Linked DNA regions of Homo sapiens. The protein of the gene in region 3 purifies or fractionates together with the protein of the main gene of each other region. This does not show direct contact. Each region holds a gene or a part of one and is shown on either strand. Other genes may lie near its edges.

Region 1 (8,030 bases), on a different chromosome or scaffold from region 3:
CAGGGAAGCCAAAAGATTGGACACCCCTGCTCTAAAGATTCAAAGCAGTAAGATTAATATTCCTTTTTTTTTTTTTTTACCTTTTAGAAAACGTTTCTCATTCAAAAACAGAAAATGATGTCCTGAAGATGTCCTTAGTTTAATGCATGTTGATAAAACTACTTTTTAGGATTTGTGTAATCTCTGTTATCACCCTTGTCTATTCCAATTCTTAAGCTTCTCCAAAATGGCAAAGTTATGAAAATGCGTAAGAACTGTTTCTGTACATTAAGTATTAAGTAAAATAAAAAATGGAAGACTTTAGGGGAAAAAATCATAGATACCCAGACATTTTACTGTATTCATTTTTATTTTTATATTTTTGTTTATATTAGGATATTATACAATTTTCAAAGCTAATAACAGAAATCTTTTTGTATGTATATTTAAAGCATAACAAAATAAAAGTATTTCACAAAAGATGTCCATATTACAGTACTATTGAAATATGAGGCACAGGGTAAGTATGCATTTGTGGGTTAAAAACATAATACATTCATTTTAAAGAATAAACATTTAATGTGAGTAACATTTTGGTTAAAATAAATATCATAGTAAATGTTAACAGCAACACCTGAAGTATATGGATACAAGAAAGGTGTTTTGTAATAGATACTATGTTGAATGGTAAAGCATTCATGAAATGGCTGTAATATCTTACTAAATTTACAATCATTGCACATTGTTGAGCACTTTATTTATATAGAGATACCCTTCATCCACCATTCCTAAACCTTACCATACAAAACAAAGTTACTCCATATTTTCACCTGGGTAACTGGTACCAATGTCTAAATAAGGTTTAGAATAGATATAGCTTTCATTTTACTGCTCCTCAAATCAATTCAAAAGTTTAACTTAATCAATATAAAATTTACTTATGAACACATATAAAGAACATTTTATAGGTGACTATATAAATTAGAGCTTCAAATCATCTTCATAGTTCTTTGAAATTATTCCATTCAAAATTAAAATTTGATTTTTACACAGTGGTTTCTTCAGGAAAAATATGAACATTTAGATTTAAAAAGATACAATATTCGAAGCAAAAAGTTTCCACATATAGAAATAATGAATTTCCCTGATCATTAAATTCTTCCCAGCTATTTCCTTCTAGCAGATATATTCACTGAGAAGAAAAGCTTTAATCTTTACTTAAAAGTTACTTTGAGGGGTCAAGCTAATGAATTTTAGATCTATGTATTCTTAAAGATTGCAAGAAAAAAAAGAGAGTATCTGTTCCAACCAGAGAACATTTCATCTCAATTATATTACATTAAAATGAACATGACATTAATGGTCAATAAGAATAATTCTTCTCATACTTCTAGGAATATATCTATGGATGCTCAGTATAAATGTTAAAAGTCATTAAGAGTGTGAGAAAAAAAATGCATCTAGCCCTCAGGAAAAACAAACAAAACAGGTTTCCTTTACCTATTCCAAAATAAAATTACCCTTCAGAAACCATACATAACTGATTAGATTTCAGAAAACAAGGGTTCAGACTTTTTGCCCTTTATACATTTTTTAAGTTTACAAATGCTTGAAAGCATTCAAATGAGTGTAAGAAAAACACATATGAAAAACAAAACCAGCAGTTACATCGGCTAAAGGGAAGTGTTCTTTGAACATGAGGTTTTCACGTTGGCAGGATAATTCATCCAAGGTTGTAAGATGGCACAGAGTCCTTTAACAGTGACTTCCTCTTGGCCTTCAGGCTTCACAATTCTGTGAGAAACTGGTCGCCACTAATACGAAAGCATTCAGGGAAAACACATCTGCACAACAGCATTTACGAAATTCTGCCCATTTCCTTAAGCTACACGAAGTGTTACCATCTCAGTCATCTTCATGAACAAATACAGTACTTTACTCAAAAGCTTCTCAATAGAAATGTTAATCTCATAACAGTTCTGGCTGTAGTCATGGCCAGTTTTCATTTTATTAAGCATATTCTAGAATTACAACCTTGTCAAATAAATTGTAACTGTATCAACATTCACAGGTACAGTATAACACACATCCTTTCTTCCTCTTTAACAAGACCAAACATATGCATACAGAGTGGCCCAAATTTTAAAAAGTTTAAAAAAAGTTTTCAATCCAGGAAAAGTATTGGTATACCAAATATCTTTTAAAAGGGTATTATACTCTCAGAAAGTATGAAACATTAATGGATAAAATGCACATACAATATAAATAAGAAAGTAACTTGAAGAATAATATAAAAAAATTTCTGAAGGGGACCGATCAGAACTTCAATAAAACTTATGAATAAAAACTTAGGCTTATATTATAGTGTACAATTATGAGTTAAAATGCACTTAAATTTATAAAGAAATTGAAATATAGTACTGCAAGGTTATTCAAAGAATATTTTTCAAATGTACAAACAACAATAAAAACACACAAAAAAAGCCTTGGGCAATGTGCAACTTTAAAAATTATTATCACACCAGCTAAACAAATCCTTAACCACTTTTTAAATGGATTCATTTATACCATTTCAATGCAAAGAGAATATCAAAAATATTAAAACAAAACAAAAAACTCTTCAGTGTCTGACTCACATTTTGTCCCCAAATCTTCACATTTAATAGTTACATTTTGAATGTATAAGCTAAGAGTTCTAAATGTTTCTCAAATAGTTTGTGTCTACATTTATCATAAGAATCATATTTGAAAACTACTCTGCTAAGAACTAAAACTAGTACTTCAAACGTTTAAAAATAAAATCTTCACAAAAGTTCACAATTGTGTTCATCTCAATGTCCATAAATTACTAAAAAAGAAACAAGTCACATGTTCAGATACTTTTTCTCAGGTATGAGTCTATTCTGATGTGTGCCAAGCTGCACCTTCAATATTTGGCACTGACAGTCTATCTAAACACAATTTATCAGCAGAAAACTGTAAGAAATTCTATAAACCTTTAGCCATTCAAAACCATCATGTTTCATTTTCTCTCCTAACATGCAATTCAGTTATTCCAAAGTCATTTGGGGGTTGCAAGGAGGTGATTTAGGTGACTGGTACAAAATGAAGCTTATATGAAAACTGGTTAAGGATTCAAAGCACACTAGCTCTGAAATATTAATCTTAACACCAGACATAAATGGGGAGGTATGACTTGCACAAAATACTTTCAATTACTTTGGTTACACTCTTCATGATCTTGCATGTTTAGCTGCTTGCAGTGCATGCATGCATCCTCTTTGCTACGTCATAAACATAGGTGACGTCTGGTCGCTTCTCTGGATCTGGGTTGATGCACATATTAACTAACTGTCGGAGCTGTGAAGAAAGAAAAACAATAAAACCTGATTAAGACAACTATTTTTGGTTAGTTTACTGAGAGGAAGAAATTATGAATAGCTATAGATTTTACAAGGAAAGTACATTTTCTGACTAAACATTCACTGTACTAGAAATATATATAAGACTGCTGCCAATGATCTTACAATAAGTTAAATGTTCTATGAAGTGCATTGAATGGACAGTATTAATGTCAACCAAGAAGTATTTTCCACAATCAGAGGCTTTAAAATGGACTCTCTTAATTTTTCAGAGTTTAATCAGAAGATAGCAGTCACTGAGGACACTAGTCTTATAACTATAAGTCTCCAAGTTAACTGTAAATACACACATACATATTTGATCTAGAATCTACTACAACAGACTTAATTGTAAGTTTAAATGGAAGGCAATTAGAGTTGACATACATTTATAATGAACCATTTTGTACAAATATATATTAAAAGTTTTATGTTAAATTTTGTATTAGAGAAAAAAACACTCCTTTAAACTAATTATAATAAATTATATGGGAAGTTATAAGTGTTATTCCAATCCTCAATTGTGTACACAGTATTTAAATGTCCTCACTTTATAGATGAGAGAGTTGAGGTTTACTATTTTATTCTATTTATATCATAGAATAAAAGCAGATTTCAATAAATTAAGAAACTACCCTCCTATATGGTCCTCGATCCATCGGGTAGAAGAACATAGCATTTTATTGTCAATTCTAATTTCCATCAGTTTATGAAACTATGTGTCATCATAACATTGTATATGATCTTCATAGACAATAAACTAAGAGGAAAAACTATATTCTTTTGCTTTGTAGGTCTCTTTAGGAACAGTTTAGACATTTTGAGAATTTGCATTAACTCTGGCCACGATATAGCACTTAGTAAATTTTTAAATTAGCACAATTTCTTCATAGTTCTCAATTTCTACCATAAAATAACTTTCAACCAGAGAAAATACAAGTGATGATTAAAAAGCTTGGGCTGAAGATGTTGCTAGTGCTATGGAGAAGGCTAATGGCACTGAGAAATGTCATTCTGAAAGAGGAGGTGGGTCAAAGAGTCTGCCAGATGAAGGGTCAGAGTTTGGTAAGGAGTACAGTGAAATGGAAACCAGTCTTGTTGAAGGCACTTTGTAGCTCTGTGCCCTTGGGTAAGTCACTGTCTCTGGAGGTTCATTTCTTCATCTATTAAATAGGGAAGTTGGAGTGGATGACCTATAAGGGCTGTTCTCATCCTAATCTCTTACATTTTACGATTCTAGCAGAATGAAATTTAATGAATCAATTTTAGCTACACTTGGAAATTCAACAATGTTTCATAGTAATGTTACACCCACTGGGAGAGCCTGAAGATTTTAATTTATATTCCTTCCAAAAGAGCAGAGAACAGCATTTAAAACCCTTAAGGGGTACAGCAATACACAAAGCATTTTATTATGGTGATCTAAGAGAAATTTACATCAGAAAGAGACTGGCATTTTACCAGGTTACCAAAAAAAAAAAAAAAAAAAAAAATAAATATATCCAGTAATACACAATGCAGAAGAAAGTGGGAAAAGCACTTACATAATGACACATAATTTAAAAGATAATGTGTTCTAATGGGTCATCTAGCTGTCAGATATTTTCTTTAGAGATAAAAACAAGAAAGCAAGCAGAAAGAATAGCAGGAAAAGATAACCATGGTACAAAAAGTTCATTATATTTAGCTAAAATACAAGTAGATGCATGCAGTAAACAATTTTTTGACTTCCTAACACTGCCACATCCTTCAAGCTGGTTCAGAAACCTTAACTTTTCCTGTGTAATAATTCAGAATAGGGTAGAATTTCCAACCACTAAGAATGAATGACTGGCCCTTAAGTTCTCCTGGCATGAGGAAAAACCAAGATTAGAGATATAATGATGCACGTTTAGTTGAAGCAGACAGTGATTCTCTAGTTCACCAAAGTAAAAAGACAAGAATTGGGAATAACAAAAAGGGAGAAAGACACTGAATAAGGTAAATAGGTAGTGGGAGTGCCAGTGAGCAGATGCTTCTAAACTGCTCCTTTAAGGATGGCCTTTCAAAGGGATGACAGGTCAATTGGTGACCTTGCGACAGGCAGAGCCACAGCACCTTGGAGTTTGCTTTTCCTTCCCCACTTATTGATTCAATCTCCACCAAATACGAAGTGTATCTTGTCATAAAGAGTTTCCTTTTCCAGAAGAATCAAAAGGGCTATCACCATATAAAATCAGATATGTGAAATACAGAATATGCATACTTTACTATATTTATGAATCAATCTGTTGATAACTTTTCCTCAATTATTTGTTACATTAAAAAATTAATAAAGTATAAAAAGAAAGAAAACCTACGAAATTAAAATATGCTTTGGGAATGCTCCCACTTATCCACTCCAGCAACATTTCTAGATGATCTACTCTGCAAGAGACACTATGCTGGTGATACTTGATGGCACCGGATAAGACAAAGGACCTGTCCACAAGGGAAGGCTTGTTGTCCAGCATGAGAAGTGAGAGAATGACTCATTTTCCTTTCTAACCATCTGACTCTTTTGTTCTTTCTTTTTGCCCCCTCTTCCATTTTCATCCGTTCATTCAATTGTTCATTCAATAGTTTCCAATGGAGTATTTATTATGTACCAGACACTTTGTTAGGTAGTAAGGATAAAGCAATAATGAAAAATACACAGCACAGGCCCTTAAACAGCCTACAATCTAGCGGAAGATAGACAGAACAAAGAAACAAATGTGAAAGTGAGGAAATCACAGAAATAATTCTATTATAAACTACAAAGTGATAGGTATCTCAAGAGATATCTGTGAGATAAAGGTAAAAGATTAAGTGTGGCTGCCCAGAGGAGGAAATAATTACTTTCCTCTTTTTCTAAAATCTGTTTAACTATGAGTTGTTGCACCTCGTACACGGAGGTATCGATACCCACACAGCTGACAGTATCCTTCTCCATTCCAAGTACTGCAACCCTCATCTTGGGTCACTTTCACATTTATTTGATGTGAATCAATATAAATCTCTTTGATTACCTGACTGTAATCTTCACCTTCATACCAATTTAGTCTCTGTCTTCCAAGGACACAGCCTGTTTCTTAAAATGCTGTGTCACATCAGAAATGTAAGCACACACAACTGTCCTTCTGTGTCTCTCCCTCCCTTCCTCCAGTATGGTTGTGTTTGATTTGACTGAGACCATTTCCAATCCCTTTCATCCTGGTCAGCTCTATCCTTTTGGATTTACATCATTCAATTCCGGCCTAGACCTTCTCTTCCCTGACGTTTTCTTCCTAGTTTCTTTTGGAGGTTTATCTTCCTTTGAAAAATCTACCAAATGTTGGTATGCCCTAAATATTTTCCTTTCCTTAACTCTTTTCCTGTTTCACTCTTCCTTCTTATCTTCAACAACTGCACTTACTCCCATGCCTTCAATAACCACCAACATGCTGAGGAACACAGGTTATCTGTCTCCAGCCTAGACCTCTTTGCAGGCTCTGTTCCCATACTTCCAACTGCCTTCTGAGTAGAGCTGCACGTAAATATTCACATTAAACATGTTTAAAACTGAAATATTAGTATTTTTTTCTCCCCAACCAGCTCTTCCTAACAGCACCTCCAACTTCTTAAGTCAAAAATTTGAAATTCATATCAAACATCTCATCATACTTCCTTCCCACCTGCCTAACCGTCAGCAACCAGTCCTATTGGTCTCAGGCTCCTTAAACCTTTTGTTTGCTCCTGCCACACCATCTCCACTGCCACACTCTTGGATAGTCTTCCAGCTGACGGCTTTGCTTTCAGTTGTCTTCCTATTTCTCTAGCACTGCCTAACTAGCCAGGTGATGCTTCAACTTTAAGCATTTCAATGGCTCCTCATACCTCTTAGAAAAGCTAAGGCCCACCATAGATGGGGAGGAGGAGCCAAGATGGCCGAATAGGAACAGCTCCAGTCTACAGCTCCCAGCGTAAGCGACGCAGAAGACGGGTGATTTCTGCATTTCCATCTGAGGTACCGGGTTCATCTCACTAGGGAGTGCCAGACAGTGGGCGCAGGTCAGTGGGTGCGCGCACCATGCGCGAGCCGAAGCAGGGCGAGGCATTGCCTCACTCGGGAAGCGCAAGGGGTCAGAGAGTTCCCTTACCTAGTCAAAGAAAGGGGTGACAGACGGCACCTGGAAAATCAGGTCACTCCCACCTGAATACTGCGCTTTTCCGACGGGCTTAAAAAAACGGCGCACCAGGAGACTATATCCCGCATCTGGCTCGGAGGGTCCTACGCCCATGGAGTCTCCCTGATTGCTAGCACAGCAGTCTTGAGATCAAACTGCAAGGTGGCGGCGAGGCTGGGGGAGGGGCGCCCGCCATTGCCCAGGCGTGCTTAGGTAAACAAAGCAGCCGGGAAGCACCAACTGGGTGGAGCTCACCACAGCTCAAGGAGACCTGCCTGCCTCTGTAGGCTCCACCTCTGGGGGCAGGGCACAGACAAACAAAAGGACAGCAGTAACCTCTGAAGACTTAAATGTCCCTGTCTGACAGCTTTGAAGAGAGCAGTGGTTCTCCCAGCAGGCAGCTGGAGATCTGAGAACGGGCAGACTGCCTCCTCAAGTGGGTCTCTGACCCCTGACCCCTGAGCAGCCTAACTGGGAGGCACCC
Region 2 (8,030 bases), about 40 Mb from region 3:
CCAGATGCGCATCCACCCAGTAGATCCTGCGAAGAAAATGAAAAGAGTGGCTGCTCCAAACGCTTGCCAGGGAGCCCAGCTCTTCCCCCTATGAACCTGTTTGTCCCCTCCTGAGCTGACTGGCAGATGCTATGAGAACTCAAGAAGCACCCTCGATGAGGGGTCATTGTGAGTCCCAAAGCTGAAGAAGGGAGCTGGTGGTTCATGAGTGGGGAGGTCAGGGCTGCTCTGGGGAGGCATAGAAAGTCTAGTGACCTCAGAGGAACCACCACCCAGCCTCATCTTCAGGAATTTGATTGCCCTTTGACTCCTACCCAATAATCAAAGCCCAATTTCTTACAAATGGTCTTTAAGAAGAGAGCTCACTCGGCCGGGCATGGTGGCTCACGCTTGTAATCCCAGCACTTTGGGAGGCCGAGGCGGGGGATCACTTGAGGTCAGGAGTTCGAGATCAGCCTGGCCAACATGGTGAAACCCCGTCTCTGCTAAAATACAAAAATTAGCCAGGCGTGGTGACACGTGCCTGTAATCCTAGCTACTTGGGAGGCTGCGGCACGAGAATGGCTTAAACCCAGGAGGCGGAGGTTGCAGTGAGCCGAGATCGTGCGACTGCACTCCAGCCTGGGCAAAAGAGTTAGACTCTGTCTCAACAACAACAACAAAAAAGGAAGTGAGCCCAGTCTACATGGACCTTGCTGAGGTTAAAAGAAGAAGGCATTCTACCACCTTTCCAGAAGTCTTGGATTCCCTTCCCCTTCTTTTGGATCAGAAGGGGGCACAGACTGCTTTAGAGCCCCTTCCCCCTGCCCTTAGCATTTCTTATCTAGACAAGGAGTTGTACATTCCGGAGCCTGGGTCGGGCGTGGTGGCTCATGCCTGAAATCCCAGCACTTTGGGAAGCCAAGGCAGTAGGATTGCTTGAGTCCAGGAGTTCGAGACCAGCCTGGGCAACATAGCGAGATGCTGTCTCTACAAAAAATTTAGAAATTAGCTGGGCATGGTGGCATGTGCCTATAGTCCCTGCTACTTGAGAGGCTGAGGTAAGAAGATGGCTTGAGCCAGGGAGGTTCAGGCTGCAGAGAGCTGTGACTGCGCCACTGCACTCCAGCCTGGGCAACAGAGCAAGATGCTGTCTCAACAACAACAAAGTTCCAGAGCCTGAAGGGATCAGGATTTGTTATATTATAACAAATATAAGAATCAGCCCTTAAATGAGTAGGGGTGTGAGACCTGTGGTCCAGCCAGAAGACATGCTCTGCCAAAGGCACTCAAATTAGGAACATGTAAACCAGCCAAACAAAACCCACATAAGGGTTGAGGGCTGGATTTAGCAATCGCTGCTCTAAGAATATATTCCCTTATCCTTCTCAATGATTCCTCTTCCCCACATACCAAGAAGCTTTCTATCTTTTCATTTTTCCAAGGTTAATCTCAACCATTCTCTCTTCTGCCCACCCGATTTCCAGGAGGCTGTTTGATGCAAGACTCCCACCTGCGGGTATCATAGTCCAGGGTAAGGCCATTGGGCCAACCCAGGTCTGTGTTGATGAGGACCTTCCGCTCAGAACCATCCAAGTTTGCCCGTTCGATCTTGGCAATGTGGCCCCAGTCTGTCCAGAAGAGGTACCTGAGACACAACAGTGCCATCATCATCAAGGCATGGGAAGACAGCACCCAGAGGTTGAGAGAACACAGAGGACCCACTAACACCATCTTTCCACCCAGCCCTTCTTCCCTGGATCTCTCTTCTGCTGGCCATAAACTTACCCCTTCCTGGGGAAAACAGCAATGGCCCGGGGCTCATCCAGGCTATTGTTGATCAGTACTTTGCGGCAGGAACCATCCAGCCTGGACGCCTCAATGGTATTTCGACCTGTGTCTGTCCAGTACAGGTTCCTGGCCACCCAGTCCACTGCCAGCCCGTCAGTGGTCTTCAGCCCTCGCCCGATCACTGTCTCCATGTTGCTGCCGTTCAGGTCTGCTCGCCTTGGGGAGAGCCCAGTGTTGGATGAGCAACCAGACTGACCCAGAATAGAGTAGAACTTTAACCCATGTTCCCATAACTGGACCCCACTGAACTGTAAGCTCCACAGGGATAGAGACCAGGTATCTATGAGTACATTCCTCAGCACCCAGCATGATAGATGTTCAATAAAATAATTGCAGAATGAAGGAACCAGTTCTTAGGAGGACACAGTATTTCCTGCTAACTGGACATAGTGGCGGTTGCCAGGGGATGTCTTGCTAGAAGACAAGTTTATCATTCCCCACATACCTTTGGGAAGAGACAAGGATTGCTAGGTGGTGATGATAAGAAACGCAGATTTGTCAAAACCAACCTGTGCATTTTTTAAAAGTTAAAAACAATTTTAAATACAAGTAGATATGAGGTTTCATTATGTTGCCTAGGCTGGTCTTGAACTCCTGGGCTCAAGCAATCTTCCCGCCTTGGCCTCCCAAAGTGCTGGGATTATAGGCGCGAGCTACCACGCCAGACCCTAATTGTGCACTTTTGCAAAGGCCCTATGGGCAGGAGGGAACTCTACCTCAGAATGGGGAGCATGTCACTGTCACCTAGGGGACTTCCCTAAACTGTATATGCCTACCTGTCCCCAGTTTGAGATTCTAATACATCCCTTGGGGAGAGCAAAGGGGAATGTTCCCTGTTCCTCCATGTGAGAATATCTGCCATGGTAAACCACTCTTACTGGTGGCAGGACATCATATTCCTAAGCTGTGTTAGGGCCACAAATTTAAAGACTAAAAATAAAACAACGAAAAAATAAAAAACAACAGCTTTGTAAACCACCATAAGACTTGGCATTTGATTGGGGCTCCTTTACTGCAATACAGATACTGGTTATATGGCCTACTCATCAGTAAGTCCTAGGGGATTCTTGGAGCTCCCTCAGGGCACAATGGTAGATGTGAAAGTCTCCAGGTCCCCTGACTTTACCTGTTTTTTTTGTTGTTGTTGTTTGTTTTACATACTAGGCTTCCATATAATCTCTAAACAAATGAAAGTTTGAAACTCTGCTGTAAGTGACAACACTACAAAGTGAACAAGTCAGGATTAAAACTCACTATCCAAAGTGCCAAATCACTCATCCATTTAGTGGTCAGAACACAACCTCACCCATGGGCGACCAGAAGCAAATCTGTGTCTTCTGGAGGTTTCAGTGTTGCTCATACCTGATAACATCCAGGAACACATCTGTGTAATAGACCTTTCCATCCACGCTGTCATAGTCCAGGGAGATGACATTGTTGAGCTCAGGAACAGGGACATGCACATCGGTGTGGTCACTGGTGTCCAGTGAGATACGCCGGATGGAGCCACGGCTGGAGAAGAGCAGGTAGGTCTCAGGAGAGGGATCACAGGTCTTCCCATCTCCCTTCAGCTGGATGCCAGTGGGGCAGGCACAGGAGAAGCCAGAAGGCCGAGGCAAGCAGAGGTGGGAGCAGCCGCCATTTCTCGAGCCGCACTTGTTAAAACCTGGTGATGAGAAGCACAAGTATTCACACCTAGCCTGGAACATCATCTGAATCTTACAAAGGTCCCAGTTGTTTGTGGCTGGCTCTTTGCTGTTCTAAGTGACAGGATTCAGTGCCTGGCAGGGTGAGGTAGAAGGAGGGTCTGCAGGAGGATCTCCAGGAGTCCTTTGAAGGTGACAGCTGTAGTACCAGCCATACCCAGAGAGAACACAGCCCAATCTGGAAGGGAGCTTAAACAGGTCACCGTCTTTCTGGCTGTAAAGGAGCTCTGTGCTCTGGATATATCTCTGATGTTGAGATGGCCCCAGAAAGCCAGAGGCTCTGACTCACAGCCCCAGCCCTCTGACTCTCACCTAGTGGCTGTGCCCGGTCCACAGCCTGCATGTCCATGAGGCCTGGCAGGTTGGACCTCACGAGGATGACATTGCTGCCAGTACCCTTGTCAGCACGGTGGATGCTCCGAGTCTGCCAGTCAGTCCAGTAGATATAGGAGTCGAGCAGGGTGAGGCCATATGGGTGCTGCACCGGTGACACCAATGTATGCCGATTGGCACCATTCAGGTCAGCAGCCTCAATTCGCTGCAGAGGAAGGAGAGGGTGGGGGGTGGTGATCAGCAGATTGGGAACTCTCCATGGAGATCCTAGGCAGGCCTTTCCCATCTTCCCAGGCTCCTGGGAAGCAGCAGGGACACGGCTCTCACCTCGGTGTGGGCATCGGCCCATAGCAGTTGGGAGCTGGCCTTGTCCACAGTCAGTCCATTGGGCCATCCTAGGTTGTTGTTGATGAGCACCGCGCGGTCTGAGCCATCCATTCCGGACCGCTCTAACTTGGCATTCTCCCCCCAGTCTGTCCAGTACATAAACCTGAGTGAGGAAGAATATTAGCTATATTAGCTAGTTATTCCAGCAGCTACCACATACCATGAATACTTAACAGTATGTCAGATACACTTGAGTACTTACAGTATGTCAGGCAAAATTTTTGCTTGACAAAGTACTTTGCAAAATACTTCATGTGCATTATCTCAACCTTCATAAGGGCCACAAGGTATGTATTTTCACTACCACCTCCATTTAATAGGTAAGGAAGCTGAGAATTAGAGAGGTTAAATACCGGACCCAAGTGATATAGCTAATACATGATGAAAACATTTCAATCCTGGTATTCTGATTCAAGGCTCATGCTTTTAACTTCTACACTGTACTGTCACCCTGCGAGAAGTCACAAGAGAGTGGAAGAGCCCCAGGGAGGTCACCTTGTTTCTGTGATGCAAGCTTCCTCTCCACTACCCACCTTTACCCCGTCATAACCCCAGCTGAGCTGGCCCCCCACACTACCCAGTGCGATACAGCCAGCTCTCACCCCATCTCATGGTACAGTACGATGGCCCGGGGACTGTCAAGGTTCTGCCACACCAACACTTTCCGCATGGACCCGTCCAGGTTGCCCACTTCAATCCGGTTTGTTCCCGTGTCTGTCCAGTATACTTTCCGGCCAATGGCATCAACCGCGAGCCCATCTGTGGTCTGTAGCCCTGTGGGAAGTCAAAAGAGCACACTGGCTCCTATTTTAAAACAGATGGGCTATTTCCCCAGCCCTGTTGCCAGACAGGTGGTCCCTGGGCTAGGAGGAAGGCCCACCTGTGGTGATGATGTCCTCATGCTGTGAGCCATCCAGATTGGCACGACTGATCCTGTGCAGTGTGCTGTCAGACCAGTACACCTTTCCTGGAGAGGGAAAGCTTGGCTCAACCTAGACCCTCACCGCCTACAATGGGACACACACAGCTGATTCATGTCTTGAAACACCAGAGCATGTCAGAGAGCTCTGGAGCCTCTAGCAGAGGAAATCAAGGAAAACGCAGAAATATCATAGCAGGATAGCTCTTGGCAGAGACGGAGAGAAGAGGGCCCCAAACCATGCTCTCACAACCAAAGAGAGAGTGCTAGAGAGACAGGGACAGGGGCTATGCCAGAGGGAATGGGGAACAAACACCCTGGCTCTTGGCAGGAGACAAAGGTGGTGGGAGAGGAAAGACAGTAATTGTTGAAGGGCAGGGACAGAAGGCCAGGTGGGAAGAGAGGGCCATACAGACCTTCCTGGGGGTCTACTCCAATGGCAATGGTGTTCTTCATGGTAATGTTGATTGGTACCACCACATCAGCAAAATAAGGGATGTCCAGGGAGACCATGCGAATGTCTATCCTCCTGGCGAAGATGAGGAAACTGTTCATGCCTGCCAGGTGGAGAGGAGGGAAGAGGATCACTCGAGCACAGCCATTAAATGGATTTGGAATCAGGCAAACTGAAACTCATGCCCTGTCCCTGCTAGTTTCTAGCTATGTTATTCTAGGCAAGTTATTTAAATTATTATTATTTTTTGAGACAGGGTCTTGCTGTGTCGCCCAGGCTGGAGTGCACTGGCATGATCATGGCTTACTGCAGCCTTGACCTCCTGAGCTCAAGCGATCCTCCCACCTCAGCCCCCTGAGTAGCTGGGACTACAGGCACACACCACCATGCCCAGCTAATTTTTGTATTTTTTTGTAGAGATGGGGTTTCGTCATATTGCCCAGGCTGGTCTGAAACTCCTGGGCTCAAGCCTCTGCCCACCTCAGCCTCCTAAAGTGCTGGGATTACAGGCATGAGCCACTACTCTCAGCTTAAATTATTAGGCCTCAGTTTTCTTATCTATAAAATGGGGACAATAATGGGGTGGCTGTAAGGGTTAAAAGATCATGTACATAAAGCACTTACCATTAGGTCTCACACATATTCATAAATAATGCCTCTTTATTAATATTATGAAAGTGGCTCTCTTTGAAGGACCCTTTACCATGAAGATTAAGAAAGAGAAAAAAAGAAAGGGAATAAAGGGACCCCAGGGGGCTTTACTCACAACCTGAGAGGCACAGTTCACAGCTCCTTTCTCACTCAAATTCCCAGGGAGGTTAGAGTTCAAATGCAGCCTACCCTGCAGCATCTCCTAGGGAGAAGCCTTGACTTCCGACATCTGGGTAGCCAGGTACTGCTTCTGGGACCCTCCAATAAGGTTGTCACATAGGTTGTGCACTCACAAAAGTGGCACATCTAAGGAGGAGGGTACTGTGACATTGTAGATATCATACATTTCTGTTTTTATTATACCAATTTTGGGCAGTTAGAAGTGTCTTTTTTTTTTTTTTTTTTTTTTTGAGACAGAGTCTCACTCTGTCACCCAGGCTGGAGTGCAGTGGCGTGATCTCTGCTCACTGCAACCTTCACCTCCCAGGTTCAAGCAATTCTTCTGCCTTAGCCTCCCAAGTAGCTGGGATTACGCGCCACCATGCCTGGCTAATTTTTGTATTTTCAGTAGAGACGAGGTTTCACCATGTTGGCCAGGTTGGTCTTGAACTCCTGACCTCTAGTGATTTGCCTGCCTTGGCCTCCCAAAGTGCTAGGATTACAGGCATGAGCCACCGTGCCCAGCCAGAAGTGTCTTATTCCAACCAAATCAGTATATTATGACAATGTACTAAGAGATGAGAGGAAAGTGTCTTGAGAAAGGAGCATCTTTATCTAATATGCATGAAGACATCATAAGAACTAGTTGGACCCTGCCTCCAGTCCTTTCTACTTGCTCCCCAGGGCCTCTCCCCAGGCCCGTCCCCTTTTCTAAAAGCCGTGAGTCTCTCCCCTGGGCCTCTAGAAGCAGCAGGACTCATGGTTTCTCAGACCACATTGGAGCCCATCTGCAAGGAAGGAAGAGAGCCATTGCCCCCTCCCAGAGAGGCTGCATCTAGATCTGTGATGCTTTCACTCACCTGGTGAGCAGGTCTTGCCATCAGACAGCAGGTTGATGCCTGTGGGGCAGGTACAGCTGAATCCGCTTGGATTTGGGGACCTAAGACACAGGTGGCTACAGCCGCCATTCTCCATAGCACATGGTGTAGACACTGGGTAGAGAGGAGGGGATGTTCAATGGGGAGAGCTAGGGCATAGGAGGGCCACGGAGAAGCCAATGCGAGCCAAGGGCTGCTCACCTGGGGGCCGGCGGCGGTGGAAGACATGGATGTCCATTAGGTTTTCCAGGTTCTCCTGCAGAGTCTCCCGGTCCAGCCCTGTCAGCCGGTCAGCGCTCTGTATGCTCTTGGTCTGCCAGTCAGTCCAATAGATGCGCTCTCCATAGAGGGTCAGCCCAAATGGGTGGGGGAGCTGGCTTCCAATCAGCACCTGCCAGGGCCCCAACACTGTGTCATCTTCAACAAAGTCTGACAGTACAGAGCAGTGGCAAAGAGCTCACTGTGGACTCAGAAAGCAGCTCTCCCACTAACACCTACTGGGTGACCTCCAGTAAGAGCTACTTATAAAATCTCTCTGAGCCTTGCTCTATCAATCTGTGACTTGATCATGCCTGGCTCTAAGGGTCGTGTGATGGTTTTATTGGAAGATGTTGGAAGTCATCTATTACTCACATCATCTCAAAGTATCTCTGGACAAATTACTTATTAAGTACAAAATTAAAAAATAGCAACTTTACAGTGGACACTACCTT
Region 3 (8,030 bases):
TTCAGCAAAACTATCAGATACAATAAATAGTTTAATGACTCAGCAATCAACTACTAGAAAGTAAGATACCATTCACACCAGAAAAAAAACCCTATCTTAACCAAGAATACAAATAATTATTTGAAGAAAACTTTCACATTCCAATAAAGAAGAAAGATTATCTAAATAAAAGGAGAAGCATGCTTCCACGCTCTTGGATGCAGTAACTTAAATTCAATACATTCCAGTCAAATATTCAGATGGCTATTCTGAGGAACGCAATAGACTTCTGTTCCTTAAAATTGACAAGGAAGGAAATAAGTTGGTAAAGACAAGTAAACCAAACAGGAAGACTACCAGATACTGACATATCACCAAAACTACAGTAGTAAAATCAGAAGAGACAAATAGACCAGTAGAACAGAGCAGAGGGCTCAGAGACTAACCAATGTGCTTCTTTATCTACAAAAACATATTAACAATAGAGGTGGCATTAAAAATCAAAGACAGAGGTAAGGATTATTTACCAGATAGCATTATGAAAACTGATTAACTATATGAGATAAAATAAAACTGGATTCCAACTTAATACCATATACAATGGTTAAGTATATAGATCAAGTAAGTACTTAAATGTTAAGGGGAAAACTATAAAATTAATGAAAAAAGATGGAATTAATGAAAAAAAAGATGGAATTTGAAAACATTTACCACTGTTAAATGAATCCAAGAGCCAGTCCTTTGAGAGGAAAAATATTAATAACAAAGTAGATAAATCACAAGCTAGTTAATCAAAGGGGGGAAAAGGAGCACAAATAGAAAAAAATAAAAATAAGATTAGGGAAATAGCAACTACAACCTTTAAAAATAACTGGAACAAAAGTTTTCTCAAATTCTTTCAAATTTTCAAAGAACAGATTATTTGATGCTATGAAATTATCCCAAGGCATCAAAAACTGTTCAAGGCATCAGAAACGAAAAACTCTTCAAGACGTCAGAAATAAAGTGAAACATAAGGCCAGTAAAATCCAGCAGCACTTGAATTCATAATCTACTACCATATCACTAATTACTTCAACATTTAGTAGCTTAAAACAACAATAATTATTTACTATTTCTTATTTTTTTTTCTGGGTCACAAATTCAGGAGTGGCTTAGCTAGGCAGCTCTGGTTTGGATCTCACAAGATAAGTTGTTGGTTACATCTGCAGTCATCAAAAGGCTTGACTGAGAAGAAGGATTCAATTCCAGGGTGGCTAACTCCCATGGCTGGCAGGCTGGTCTAAATGTTGATGAGAGATCTGTTTTTTCTCCACGTGGTCCTTTCAAGTGGCGGGGGCTATCTGTCAGCATGGTGCAAGTTGCCCAAAAGAAAGTCAAGCAAAAGCTGCATTGTTTTTATGACTTAGCCTTGGAGGTCACATCCTATCACTTCTACTGTACTCCACTGATGAGGCAATCACAAGCCATGGCTGTATTTGAGAGGGGTGGGACACAGACCCCACCTTTCAGTGGAAACAATGTCAGTCACATCATAAGAAGAGCATGAAAACAGCATAAATTGTAAGTGTTGGGAAAAAGCTGAGTGTTGTGAAGGAAACTGAGGCAGGGTTTGCATAATGTCCTTTGGAATGTGTCTAGACTTGCTGGCTCCTTGCTTCTAGCCCTCCTAGGCTCCTATTCCCACTATCTAAAGTAGCAGAACATGTTCCATATAAATGCTAAACTATCGCAGCTGTAAATCATGTGCTTAATGCAACGTGTCCTTTTGACCTCCACATTCTCACCACCTGTTTCTCTGTTGGATTACCAATAAATAGCGTGGGCTCCCAGAGCTTGGGGCCTTCGCAGCCTCCGTACAATAGCGATGGCCCCCTGGTGTTCCCACCTCCTTTTCTCTCTCACTGTCTTTTTCTCAATCCTTTGACTCCGCCGGACTTTGTCACCCCCACGACCTGGTGTTGGGTCTGATCACCCCAACAATAAGTAAGGCCATCTTTGGAAAATTCAATCTGTTATAATACCAAAGCATATTATATCATGGTAAAGTGGTAGTTTATTCCAGAAAGAAAAGGAAGGTTCAAATTAGGAAAGCTATTAACTTTAAGCTTTTATAATAACATCAAATAAGAAAAGCCATATGATTATTGTAATGGATGCCAAAAAGTATACTTATTAAAATTCAACATGCATCCTTCATTTAAAACTACAGACAAAGCATGCAAAACAAAACAAAGCAGAAGACATACAAACATATCTTAAACCCAAAGATAAAGCATTAAAGTCATTCTCATTAAAACTGGAAACTTGACAAGGATACTGCAAGTCCACAACTTTTAAACTACTGTGAAACTACAGCATAATGCAATTAGACAAAATTATCTGTAGAGGATATGACTGCATATCTGAGAGATCCAAGAAAATCAGCTGAAAACTACTGGCAATGATAAGGGAATTCATGATCCCAGAAATTCTGTTACTAGAATTATAAACTAGACATTACACATGTATACCAAAAGATCTGTACAAGAACAGTTAGAGCATAATAAATGCTGTAACAGCAAAAAACTAAAGCAATCCAAAAAGTCCAACAACAAAACAGATAAGTTGTTCATACTATGAAATAGTACACAGCTGTGAAAATGAACAGCTACATGAATCAACATCGATGCACTGTAAAATTTAGCATTATGCAAAAGAAGCCATTCATGGAAGAATATATAGTGATTCAATTTTACAATGTTCAAAAATATGCAAAACTAAACAATTGTGTTTAGAAATGTACCTGTAGTTAAAAGCGCAGGAAAAAACAATTAAGGAATAACAACATTTAAGATAGTGGCTGCCCCTTTAGGAGAGGGGTGGGAAAGAAATTCTGGAGTCATCAGAGGGCTTTTACAAGTATATGCTGATTTAGGCTGGGCATGGTGGCTCACACCTATAATCCCAGCACTTTGGGAGGCTGAGGCAGGCAGGTCACTTGAGGCCAGGAGTTCGAGACCAGCCTGGCCAACATGGCGAAACCCTGTCTCTAACAAAAAAAAAAAAAAACAAAAAAAAAACACTACCCAGGAGGTGGAGGTTGCAGTGTGCTGAGATCACGCTACTGGACTCCAGGCTGGGAGAGAAAGCAGTCTGTCTTAAAAAGAAAAAACAGTGTATGCCGAGTTCAATGGTGAGTGTCCGTGTTATTATATTTTAAATTGTACGTATGTTTTCATATATTCTTTTGCTTATAGGAAATACATCATAATAAAGTTCAAATTACATAAAATCTAAGAGTATACAAAAAGAGTTCAGACATATAAATAATAATTAGAATTTTTTTTTTTTTTTTTTTTGAGACAGAGTCTCGCTCTGTTGCCCACGCTGGAGTGCGGTGGCATGATCTCGGCTCACTGCAAGCTCTGCCTAAATGAAATTTATAATAGCAATAAGAATATAAATTCCTAAAAATAAATTTACCAAAAATACCAGAACCTATATAAAGATAGTTTTAGAATTTTGAGTGCTAAAAATAGGGTTGGGGTCGGGTGCGGTGGCTCATGCCTGTAATCCCATCACTTTGGGAGGCCAAGGTGGGCGGATCACTTCAGGTCAGGAGTTCGAGACTAGCCTGGCCAACATGGTGAAACCTTGTCTCTATTAAAGATACAAAAATTAGCCAGATGTGGGGCTCACCCGTGTAATCCCAGCTACTTGGGAGGCTGAGGCATGAGAATCACTTTAACCTGGGAGACAGAGGTTGCAGTGAGCCAAGAGTGTGCCACTGAACTCCAGCCTGGGCAACAGAGCAAGATGACTCTGTCTCAAAACAACAACAAAAACAACAACAACAACAAATAGGCTTGAAAAAACAAGATGACTCTGCTCAGTCTTAGGAGAAATAAATATAATTTTGTTCTAACTAAACTTATCTCTATTTTCAAGCAGATTTAATCAAGATATTAATCTTGATTTTGATGTGGGGTTGGAGGAGCTGTAACAAACTGATTTTCAAATGCTTTTGAAAGAAAACCATTTTGAAAGTGGAATAATGAGGAGAGGCTAATTCAATGGCATATTAAAACTTTAATAAGGACTCTGCAATTCATAACATGGCTTGACATACAAGTAGAGAAGATCAATGGAAACGGGTACAAATCCAGAAATGGACACAAGTACAACAGTGCATTTTACACATGACAAAGGTTACATCAAATTTGTGGGGGAAAGACGGCTTATTCAATCAATGATGTTGGGACAAATGATGACATCTGGCAAAAAAAAAAAATTAAGCTTGATACTCTGTCTCAATTCTTACGTCTTAGTGACTAAAAAGAATTATATCAGATATGCATTATAGTTCAAATAATAGCTAACAATGCAATCAATTGTTAGTTCTTCATGTCCAGCACTGTTCTAAGTTATTTTTACATGTATGATCTTGTTTAACATTCTTAACAGCCCTACACAGCAGCTGTTATTTCTCCACTATAAAGATGAAAGCCTAGCTAAGTGATTCAATCTAGTTCACAGTATTAAGAAGTGACAGACATGCAATAAGCTTAGGTAGTGGATGTAGAGCCTGTACTATGACCAATGTGCTATATTGATTAAACATAATGAAAGGTTAGTATATACTTATTATCTAAAACTTATTATATATATGTTCCTTTTACATCTTTTTGACCAAAATGGAAATCATCAGAATATTATTCTGTGGAAAAAGCCATCCTCTCTCATTTTTATCTTCACTGAGTGAAAAAGAAATGCTACATTCTTCTTCATTGCGTATTAAATGCACTACATATAAAGGGACAACAATAAAAACATTCTGATACCAGTGTAAGAATTGAGAAGAGGCTCCACAAAACAAGACAGCCTCAAAAGTAATCTTTGTATACATATGTGTATGTGTAATTTGTATATGAAAAGGTAGCACCACAGTCAGTAGAGAAGATAAATGTTAGTAGAAAAATTAAATAACCTAAGTAGGAAGTAAAAAGAATGTTTAAATTCTGTCATTTCTCACATCAAAATAAATTCTTGATAGATTTAAAAATTAAATGTTTAAAATAACACAATTAAGAAACAGGAAAATGAAAGCAATTACATATTAAATTTGGAAGTGAAGAAGAGATTTCAAAGCACAGAACTATATAAGTAAAAGAAATGAGATTTCATTTTATGCAAATTTAAAACTTATATAAACAAGTCCTTAAAGTAAAAGGCAAATGATAAACTAGGAGAAATATTTACAGCATATGACAAATGATTTATATGTTTTCCACACAAGAATATCTAATATCAAGTGGAAACAAAAAATTCAGTAGGAAAACAGTGATGTATATCAAAAGGCAATTCATCAAAGAAGGAATATAAAGAGTCAACGAATATATGTGAAAAAGTCAACCCTACTAAGGATTAAAAAGGATGCAAATCAAGGCAAAATTTAAAACTTAATACTCAGTGCTGGCAAAGGCTCAGTAAGATAGAATCATTCATCAAATGGTTGTAGGAGTTCAAGTTCACATAACATTTCTAAAAGAGAACTTCAGTTTTTCAAAAGCCTAAAACATGCTTATATCCTTTGATTCTGTTTTCCTATTTCTCAGAGTATATCTTGAGAAAATAAAAAGACATATACTTAACAAATTATGTATAAGAATATTTATTATAAGATATTTATAACAACAACATATTGGGAAATACTTAAATTTTCCCCAGTAAAAAGCAAACTTAATGGGAGTCCAAGGTGGGCAGATTGCCTGAGCTCAGGAGTTCAAGACCAGCCTGGGCAACACGGTGAAACCCCATCTCTACTAAAAATACAAAAAAATTAGCTGGGCATGGTGGCGTGCACCTGTAGTCCCAGCTATTCGGGAGGCTGAGGCACGAGAATTGCTTGAACCAGGGAGGCTGAGGTTGCAGTGAGCCGAGATTATGCCACTGCACTCCAGTCTGGGCGACAGAGCGAGACTCCGTCTCAAAAAAAAAAAAAGCAAACTTAAATAAAGCATACTATATACCTAGAATGGAACACTATACAGTCATTAAAACTCATGCTACCAAAACATGCTTGGAAAAATGCTCATTATATGTTAAGTGAAAAACGTATACAAATAACAGCTATTCATACATTGAATAAATATTTACTGAGTGCTTAGTATACGCACAGTACACTTCTATATACTGGGAACATTTCCTTCCCTCATGGAGACTATTTGTCATGAGTCAAATTTTTTAATTTAATGTTTTATATATACTAATCTTTTTATATACGTGTGTGCATATACCTAAGTTTATATTTGTACATGTGTATGAACATGTATACATACATATCAGTATTTGTACAGACTAGTGAGTACATATATACAATAAGTATTAAATAAAAGACTACAAGTAAATACACCCAAAGGTCAACAATGGCTGTCAATATGGTTCATGTGAAGAGATGCACAAGAATAAATAACAAATTTAAACATTAATTGCCTTCCACAATGTGGCTTTATACATTCATGTTTCACTTCCCTGTCACTAGCCTGGTTTCCTTATTTGTTCCCTCAAATTGTACCTGAGAGTAAATGATGGCTTTCCTATTTAGAATATCTTCCTACTCATAATTGTTCAAATCTGAGTTTCTGTTGCTGTGTTTTAAGTGCCACTCATTCTGGCACTGTTTAATGTCGATAACTTCAGAAATTATTATTAATCTCATATAGTTTATTACCCCCAATGTTAAGACTTTTTTTTTTTTTTTTTTTTTTTTGAGAGGGAGTCTTCCTCTGTTGCCCAGGTTGGAGTGCAGTGGTGCCATCCTGGCTCACTGCAACTTCAGCCTCCCGGGTTCAAGCAATTCTCCTGCTTCAGCCTCCTGAGTAGCTGGGATTACAGGTGCCTGCCACAATGCCTGGCTAATTTTTGTATTTATAGTAAAGACGAGGTTTCACCATGTGGGCCAGGCTGGTCTCAAACTCCTGACCTCAAGTGATCCGCCCACCTTGGCCTCTCAAAGTGCTGGGATTACAGGCGTGAGCCACCGCGCCTGGCGATGACATTCTTATAATTCTTTATCTCAGAACACCAAGAACAGCATGAATTATACACTAGACTTGAGTGACTGAATGAATGAATGAGTAAATGTTGGGAAAAGACACTGGGTTGGGGCAGGGTCAAGTCTGCACGCTCGAAAATTTCACAGGCAAGCGAGGAACGTTTTCTGTCCAGTCATCCATCCATCCTCATTGCCACCTCCACCACCCATGGAGAATGCAGGGACATTTTGTAAATGAGAAAAGACAATCATCCTCACTTGGGATCAGACTATGAGGGAAACAGTGTACATTCCTTCCTCCTTTGTGTTCCTCTTCTGGGGAAGGGTAGAGTGCTGAGACGGCTGAGCTGAGGAGGAAGGCAGACTGAAAACCTGGGTATGGCTTTAAATTCCCAAATTCATTAAATTTCCCATATACTAACTGGGTATGACGCACACATCTCCTAGCAAGAGGTCCAAAAGAAGCCTATGAATGCTCTTGTTTCCTTTCAACGACCAGAAAGGAGAGCTATGAACACTGGCACCTTGAAATTTATTTCCAACCCTCTAGAAACTTCAAAAGATACAACTCACTTATTTATTGAGATTATTATTACTACTAACAATAATAGGAAAGCACCAGCACACTTAAATAGTATCTATTCTCAAGGTATTTTTCTTATTTTGTTCAGTTTAAGTAGAAAATCATTCCATTGTCCTCCCCTACTTGCTAAACAGGAATACTGGATTTACTATCAGAAAAGTACCTGGAGTCTTAGAGAAGTATCCCAGAACTGGAGCTCCCAGGTCCTGATCAAAGTCTCAACTGTGCCATCAAGCACTTGTAGAACTTTAAAGAGGACCAAACTTATAGATCTCCAAGATCTCAGTTTCCTTACCTGTAAAATGGGGGCATGAGCCTTTGCCACCCCAGTCCTTCCTTGCTGATCAAAGGTAGGTTCCTGGGCAAAGTAATAAGCAATTAGTTAACCCTCTTTCTCTAGGGAAAAAACGTTTCATGCGTGCCCCAAGAGCA
Region 4 (8,030 bases), on a different chromosome or scaffold from region 3:
TTTGTCTAATCCTGCTTTTAGTTCTTGGAATATGCTAGGCTCTTCATCTGCCTTTGGATCCTTTGCCAACAGCAATTCCTCCCCCGTTAATGCTGGCTTGCTTTCTGGATTCAACTATTACGTCCAATCATGATTAGATCCCCATTCACTTGTAAGGGAATTATACTTTCTCCTCAGAGAATGTATGATAGTTTATAATGTTATACTTACATAAATATTTGTCTTAACAGTCCATAAGCACCATCAAGGCAGGGAGCATAACTGCTTTGCTCTATTGATAAAACAGAACCGCCAGGTGCAGTGGCTCATGCCTGTAATCCCAGCACTTTGGGAGGCTGAGGCGGGCGGATCACGGTCAGGGGTTTGAGACCAGTCTGGCCAACATAGTGAAACCCCGCCTCTACTAAAAACACAAAAATTAACCGGACATGGTGGCGCGTGCCTGTAGTCCCAGCTACTCCGGAGGCTGAGGCAGGAGAATCGCTTGAACCCGGGAGGCAGAGGTTGTGGTGAAGTGAGATTGCACCACTGAACTCCAGCCTAGGCAACAGAGCCAGACTCCAACTCAAAAAAAAAAACAACAACAACAACAAAAAAAAAAACCCCAAAACTTAGTGCAGAACCTGCCACATAGTAGGCACTGCAATTTCTACTGAATAAAGAATGAATACAGTAGCAAGGCAAAGGCAAACTGAAGGCTGAATTAAGATTTAACTCAAGCTCCACTGTTCAGTGGCAATCCTACATCAGCATAGATGTAATTTTATCATCCCTAAAACAAGATAAAACATAACCACTTTATATGAAAGAACTACCAATGTAAAAGAAGTATGACAAGGGTTTTTCATGTTTATTTAGCAAGTTAAATGCTGTTTTTACTGATGATAGAAAGCAAATAAGATACTCCTCAAAATCAAAGAAAATAATTAAAACTATAAAGTATTTGTTCACCTGAAGTTCAGTATTTATGACATAATTATGCCCTTAGCTACTTTCAAGATTTTAACTTTACTAAAATAAACTTTAAAAAAAAATACTGCATAGGAAAATGTCTGATTCTTGTTTTAAAGTGTTACTGTTTTATTTTTTTTCTTTTGTTGAATACACATTTGTTTTACTGGCAGTCCAGATAAACAAGTATATAAAGGAAATAGTAAATTTTTATTTTGGCAGAAGATAAACTGTGCAGATTAAAATGCCTCAATTTAACCTGAAGAAATGGTTTTGAATCATATAAATTTTTAAGAAGAAAAATAAAGACTGTCCAAAGGGATTCTCCTAGCTTATAACACATTTCCAGAATAACTCTCAAAAAAAAAAAATTCAAAAATACTCATTGACTACCTTAAAAATATGTCAATACCGTATGGCTTTATGAAATAACTTCTAAAATTTATATAATTTTTCTTATTTAAAAAGGACCCCAAGTTTTAAATAAGCTGCTAGCAGTATCATTTTCTTCACTTAAAAGTGCATATCTTTGAGGGTGGGACATACATTTTGAACAAATAATGATTTTTACAAATTAACACCAAAAAAAAAATCATTTAAAATATTGTAAGGAGGAAGAGAGTTTTCACCAAATGTCATCTTTAAATAGACTGCAGTAGACGACATTCTTCCTTTTTCCTTTTTATAACATCATAATTCTCAATGAAATGCTTTGGCAGTTTTAAGACATATCACAGTCTCTACCAAGACATACTGACATTAATGATGTCCGTGGCGATGGCAATTGCCTTGATGGCTCAGTTTGAAGAGACACAATGTTACTGGGCTGGTTCTCCAAATCAGAAACAAAGGTGCTCTCTTCTCTTACATCGAGAGTTTGTTCAACTGAAGCTGCCAGAGGTGGAATATTATCTACAGTTTTGTTGGCATTATTCAAGTTGTTACTAAGTGTGGCAATATCACATTCCTTGTCCAGCACACCAAATTCAGCTTCTATTGTAACTACATCTTTAGTTTCAAATGGTTCCAAGGAAGGAGCCAAAAACTCATTTTGTAGAGGGTCTTGAGGACCACTATTGTCACATTCTGTATCCTCCTTTACTTCAGAATCCTTATCACTGTCACTGTCAATGGTAATTACAACTGGGGAACGTGAAGCATTATCTCCATGGTGTTTCTTATGCTTCTTCTTATGTTTCTTCTTTTTCTTTTTATGGTGTTTAGTTGTATCAGTAGCTTTTCCTTCATAAACTATCTCTACACTTAGGCTCCGGGTCTTCCTTTTTCTCCTTTTGTGTTTTGTCTCTCTGTCTGATGATCGGCTGTCTGAAAAGGTATCACTCTCATTTTTGTAGTTTCCATCCAATTTTGATGAAGATTTTTGGTAATGACTGTCCTTTGCTTTAGAAGCAAATTCACGAGATGGCTGAGCCACTTCGTTAGTACCCTCCAAATGCCGTGTTTTGTATTTTCGTTTCCCTCCAGGCTTTTCATTTCTCACCCGGTCAGTCCCGGTAGATGCAGTCCTTGATCTGTTACTAGACAGGCTCCTTGATCTGTGCCTTTCATAGTAGTAATACTTCCTCTCACTGTGATTATTTTTTTTCCTAGCATTTGTTCTTTCAGAAAAGGACTGAACTCTAAATTCTGGACTTGAAGACTGTCTAGAATAATGAGCTCTGGACAGAGTCCTCCTCCTGTAAGATGATTCGTACCCATCCCTGTCCTTGTTTCTACTGTAATAAGTATACTCCCATTTGTATCTGCTTCCATAATTATTTCTTAAATAATAACGATCTCTATTTCTGCTCCGTGATCTTCTTTTACCATGATCACTGCTACGAGACCTTGATCTGCTTGTGCTTTCACTACTTAGAGACAGAGTTTGGCTTCTTCTGGACCAACTGCTATCTCTAGTTCTTGATCTCTTTTTGTCTCTTCTCCCTCTAGGTCTGCTACTTTCCCTGCTTCTGGATCGTTTACTTTTCATTCTTTTCTTCCCATGATGCTTTCTATGATTCTTCTGATCATGCCCACTTCTACTCTGAGAACGTGAATCTGAACTTCTTGATCTTCCCCTCTTTCTGTGTCTATGGTTATATGGAGAATATACTCTGTCTCCTCTTACAGATGAGTTCAGGTTTCTGGGAGATGACAATGATGTAGATCGTTTCTCTTCCTTCTTTGATTTGATTCTTGTACTAGAATCACAATGACCTTTATTTATTTGTTCATCCTTTCCAAGGACAGAGTGTGGAGATGAGCATCTACTAACATCGCTATCACCAGAACTGTAAGATTGCTCCTGTTCTTGTGTCTTCACTGTCTCCATTTTCTCATAAGAACCTAAGTCCTCAGAATCAGAGGACAGTTCAACAAGTTCTGGGGTCCTCTCAGCTAGTGGTTTAACAAACCCAACAATGACACAATTATCTGAAGAATCATCACTGTCATTATTTAGGTCGTCATTGGTTTGTACTCCTTGTATCTGAGACGTGGCTCCTCCTGTGACAAGTTCTTCATCTGAACTGTCAGAAGTATTTAAAAGAGAAGACATAGTAACGTGTACCTGCTCTGAGCTTGAGTAAGATGGTCCTGGAGTTTCATCATCCCATGGTGCCTGACTAACAGTGGCTACATTAATATCCAGCTCTTGGGTCTCAGCCTCATCTGGAGATATTGTTATGACTGAAGAATCAGAATGGCTGCCTTCTTCGTATGAAGGAGCAGGGCAATCATAATTGGCATGCTGGTCAAAGGCTGCCATGTTAAAAGGAGATCGGGCAAAACTGATAAATTCATGTATAAAATGCTCAGTTCGATTAAGTAAAAATGGTCTTAAATCAGACACAAATGCCTGACTCTCCAAGTCATAGCGAGTAACATTACTCATGATAATATGCTGGACAATATTCACTAAAGATCCATGAGCTCCAAAAAGAACTGTAAGTTCACGTTTTAACCAGGGGACTAATCTGTGAAGGCAAGCTGGATTTCTACGGAAAAATTCAGCTGAAATATCCCTGTAGCGGCCACCATCTTCAATATTTCTAACTCGAGCACCAGCACGATAAAGAGTTCGTCTAAAATTAATAATATCTTGTTCTTGAATTTTCCGCAAAGATCTTTCATCTGCCGTAGTTGGCCTCCTTACTGCAATCTGTCTCATAAACTGAGGAATTTCAACATCTCTAGGTCTTGTTGAAATGCCTAACCCTTCAAACAGTACTCCACTATCCGGTGGAGTTGTTGTTCTTCTGTTCACAGGACCACTAGGTGAATACACAGAAGCATTTCGTTCCCTTGTCAGAGTTGTACGGTAGCGAAATCGTCGATCAGGGGTGACAAAAGAACCATTATACGAAGGCCTTAGGACATACTCCTTGAAGTCATCTTCTGCCCTCACAGAATGGAAAATAGAATCAAAGGGCTGTTTACATAGTGGGCATTCAGCTTTGTTTTTTGACCACTCCTGTACACAGCGAAAACAGAACTTATGTAAGCAGCGATCTAAGTAAGACACATTATCAAATCTATCCAAGCATATAGGACACTTAGAATCAGGAGATGCATCAGCTGGTACTGTCTGTTGCAATTTGCTAGTGCCAGCTTTAGGTGAAAAGTTGTCCATTTTAAATTCCTTAGCAGCTGATGCCATTATCTGTAAAAGGGAAAGAAATATATCAGTAACCTGATAATAGAGGAATGACTAAATAGTCTCAACAAAAATGCAAATAAAGACCTTGAAACTTATTTTGGTGAAAATACTTAAGTGACCCATTACTTTTGTTTTATTTTATAAAGGGGCACTGTAGCATAGTAATATAGTGCTTAAAGCATAAGCTCTGAAGTCAGATTTCCTAAGACTGAATCCTGGTTCCACACTACCAGCGTGACTATGTGCCAGTTAGTATCTCTGTGCTTTAATTTCATCTGCAGGTCAGTGATAACAGAATCTGCCTTACAGGGTTTGTGAAGATGTAAAAAGCCCTTAGAAAAGGCACCTGCTACATAGTAAAGCTCTCAAATATTATGTAACATTCTATTATTCTTTTTAAAAATAATTTGAGAAATATCTGACATATAAAAAAAAAAAGTACCAAATACCCATGTATCCACCACTTATGTTATGCCCCTTATCTTCCCCTCCTATCACTCTCTAGAAAACAAAAAACAAAAACACCACACTCCTCAGTTGATGTTATTTCTATGCATGGCTTTATACCTTTCATATACATATGCCACTAACAATACAGACTACTGATTTATCTGTGATATTTTGTATGTACTTTTCTAAAACAACTTTGGTGACATAACTTACATACCAGAAAGTTCACCTGTTTAAACCAATCCTATGATTTTTAGTGAAAGATTCTTTTTTCAACCTTAGAAAGCTAATTTTAAAAAGGGAGAGGAAACTTTTAGTGAAGATTAAATAATAAATGAAAAAGCAGCCAAGAGGCAGTGCCTGGCTCACAGTAGGTGCTGAGTAAATGTCAGCTGTTATTATTACTACACTATTATATTCAGTTAATCACTCATTCCATTCAGCATTCCTAATAAGCCTTCCTTTAGCTTTTTTCTTTAATCCAAAAGTCAGGCCACAGAATATCTTGAAATCATGTTTTTGGTCCCCTTCCCTATTATCCTTTCCCATAAGGATGACTAGAATATTAAAGATTAGTTTGTTTTATCAGTTTACATTGGCTCAAAACTTTGCTAGAGCTTGAAATCTAGTATGCGTTTTGACTTTATCTCATAAACTCCAAAGCTGCATTTTATACTAATCATTTTGAGTATATTGACTATTGGGGAGTCAGGCGCGGTGGCTCATGCCTGTAATCCAGCACTTTGGGAGGCCAAGGCAGGCAGATCACCTGAGGTCAGGAGTTCAAGACCAGCCTGGCCAACGTTGTGAAACCTTGTCTCTACTAAGAATACAAAAATTAGCCGGGCATGGTGGCAGGCACCTGTAATCCCAGCTACTTGGGAGGCTGAGACAGGAGAATCGCTTGAACCCAGGAGGCAGAGGTTGCAGTGAGCTGAGACTGCACCATTGCAGTGGGTGACAAGAGTGAAACTCTGTCTCAAAACAAATAAACAAACAACAACAAAAAACTACTAGGCCCTTGGTTTCCCAGGGCCTAATATTCATCTTCCTCCACCTCCTTTATCACAGGAGGTTCCATCACTAGTCAACTGGGGTCAAGTTAATCAAATAACAGAATTGTAATTTTCTAAATAGACTCATTGGCCTTAACAAACTATAAGAAAAACCAATAAACAAAACCCACAACAAAAACTCATGACTGAAATACAAGTATTCCACCATAGCTTTCATATTAAACCTGCTCACTTTAGGGCATCTTGGCTTTCTCAGAACCATAACTTAATAGAGAATCAATTAATGCTAAATAAGCGTTTCTTCAGGGGTCCAGGTATGTCTAGTCTTCTATTTACTGGACTGAAAATGCAAAAACATCATCACTGTCCTGGAAGGTCTGGAAAAGCAGGATTATAAATACATAATACTGCTTTTTTGTTCATAAACAGTCTAAAACCCTAATACTGCACAACCTTCTCAGCATTTCCCTCTACTTTTAACATTTTTTAATCTGCCTACTCAAGAAATTTAAAGAAACACACACATAAAAATAAAAACCTTTCAGTTCAGAGACTGTGTGTGTGGTAGAGGGAAGGAACAGAGAAAAGTTGGGAGGGAATCAAAGAGGTTATCAAAAGATCTGGACTGAAGACCAGGCTTCACCTAGAACTAGCTCTAGTTAATGTGAAGAAAACCACATTACTCTAGACTTTAGTTTTCTCCTCTATATAATGAAGGGATTACTGGACTTGGAAAAAAGACCCGTGAATTCCAAGTTAATACATTTTATCTTCACTTAGTTCTCTGAAATAGAATTTTAGTGTTTTCTGAACACTTCCAGTTCACATAAAAATTACAGCTGAAAATGAATTTATTAAAGGGAATTATTAGGTAGTAAACTTGAAGTTCAAATAAAATAAAATCTCAACAAAGTATGATTTTTTTAAAAAAATGAAACCTTACCCTTCCCTTCTCTAGTTTTATAAGCCTGTTAACCACTTTGACAGTAAAAGGTGAATGAATGACTGGTAATGTCCTCCATAACAGGTTAAAAAATAATAATAAATTAGAATTCATTCTTGTATTTCTACACAGGAATCATTAGCTGAAAAGAATAATCTTAGCCGGGCATGATGGGCACACCTGTAGTCCCAGCTACTCAGGAGGCTGAGGCAGGAGGATTAACTGAGCCTGGGAGGTCCAGGCTGCAGTGAGCCATAATTGCACCACCTCACTCCAGCCTGGGTGACAGAATGAGACCCTGTTTCAAAACAAACAAACAAACAAACAAACAGTCTTCATCAGAAACATCAAAGAGGCGGGGCACGGTGGCTCACGCCTGTAATCCCATCACTTTGGGAAGCCAAGGCAGGAGACCCTTGAGGCCAGGAATTTGAAACAGCCTAGGCAACAAAGCGAGATCCAGTCTCTATTTTAAAAAAGAAAAAGAAACATCAAACAATTGGAATGCATGTAGATCAAATAAGTTATTAGCTCTTCAAAATCATCACTAAATACTAAATTAAAATGTTTTTTAAAACGCAAATGAAGTCGAACATATGACCCGGCAATTACACACCTAGATATACCCAAGGGAAACGAAAACTTGTCCACACAAAAAAACTGTATATGAATATTCACAGCAACTTTAGTCATAATACCTCAAAAGGAGAAACTCAAATACCCATCAATTGATTAACAGACTAATAAAATGTGGTCTATCCACACTATGGAATTTTATTTGGCAATAAAAAGGAACAAAGTACTGGTACCATGTTGTAACATGGATGAAACTTTTTATTATGCTAAATGAATGAAAAAAAAAATTCACAAGAACCCACATATTGTATGATACCTTTTATATGAAATGTCCAGAATAGGCAAATCTAGAGAGATGAAATGAGGCTGGTGGCTGCTGCTGGGGCAGTAAAGAGGTTTATTTCTGGGGTGATGAAAACGTTCTACAATTAATTAT

Evidence for each region.
Region 1: the proteins of ZNF214 (region 3) and NEK7 purify together in Homo sapiens (affinity purification with mass spectrometry; one large-scale study listed by BioGRID and IntAct). This does not show direct contact.
Region 2: the proteins of ZNF214 (region 3) and LRP4 purify together in Homo sapiens (affinity purification with mass spectrometry; 2 studies listed by BioGRID and IntAct, with this or other methods). This does not show direct contact.
Region 4: the proteins of ZNF214 (region 3) and TOPORS purify together in Homo sapiens (affinity purification with mass spectrometry; 2 studies listed by BioGRID and IntAct, with this or other methods). This does not show direct contact.

The regions. Positions count from the first base shown.
Region 1 is NC_000001.11:198,314,721-198,322,750, reverse strand, and holds the end of NEK7 (serine/threonine-protein kinase Nek7), read right to left. Parts: intron 3,340-8,030; coding exon 3,229-3,339; 3' UTR 331-3,228; downstream 1-330. UniProt on the Homo sapiens protein: Protein kinase which plays an important role in mitotic cell cycle progression. Required for microtubule nucleation activity of the centrosome, robust mitotic spindle formation and cytokinesis.
Region 2 is NC_000011.10:46,871,608-46,879,637, forward strand, and holds part of LRP4 (low-density lipoprotein receptor-related protein 4 precursor), read right to left. Parts: intron 7,709-8,030; coding exon 7,519-7,708; intron 7,432-7,518; coding exon 7,300-7,431; intron 5,733-7,299; coding exon 5,592-5,732; intron 5,224-5,591; coding exon 5,137-5,223; intron 5,031-5,136; coding exon 4,859-5,030; intron 4,360-4,858; coding exon 4,197-4,359; intron 4,075-4,196; coding exon 3,849-4,074; intron 3,497-3,848; coding exon 3,193-3,496; intron 2,810-3,192; exon of another isoform or gene 1,987-2,809; coding exon 1,768-1,986; exon of another isoform or gene 1,628-1,767; coding exon 1,493-1,627; exon of another isoform or gene 1,467-1,492; intron 27-1,466; coding exon 1-26. UniProt on the Homo sapiens protein: Mediates SOST-dependent inhibition of bone formation. Functions as a specific facilitator of SOST-mediated inhibition of Wnt signaling.
Region 3 is NC_000011.10:7,011,790-7,019,819, forward strand, and holds part of ZNF214 (zinc finger protein 214), read right to left. Parts: intron 7,962-8,030; exon of another isoform or gene 7,911-7,961; coding exon of another isoform or gene 7,894-7,910; intron 4,236-7,893; exon of another isoform or gene 4,031-4,235; intron 1-4,030. UniProt on the Homo sapiens protein: May be involved in transcriptional regulation.
Region 4 is NC_000009.12:32,539,715-32,547,744, forward strand, and holds the end of TOPORS (E3 ubiquitin-protein ligase Topors), read right to left. Parts: intron 4,613-8,030; coding exon 1,673-4,612; 3' UTR 830-1,672; downstream 1-829. UniProt on the Homo sapiens protein: Functions as an E3 ubiquitin-protein ligase and as an E3 SUMO1-protein ligase. Probable tumor suppressor involved in cell growth, cell proliferation and apoptosis that regulates p53/TP53 stability through ubiquitin-dependent degradation.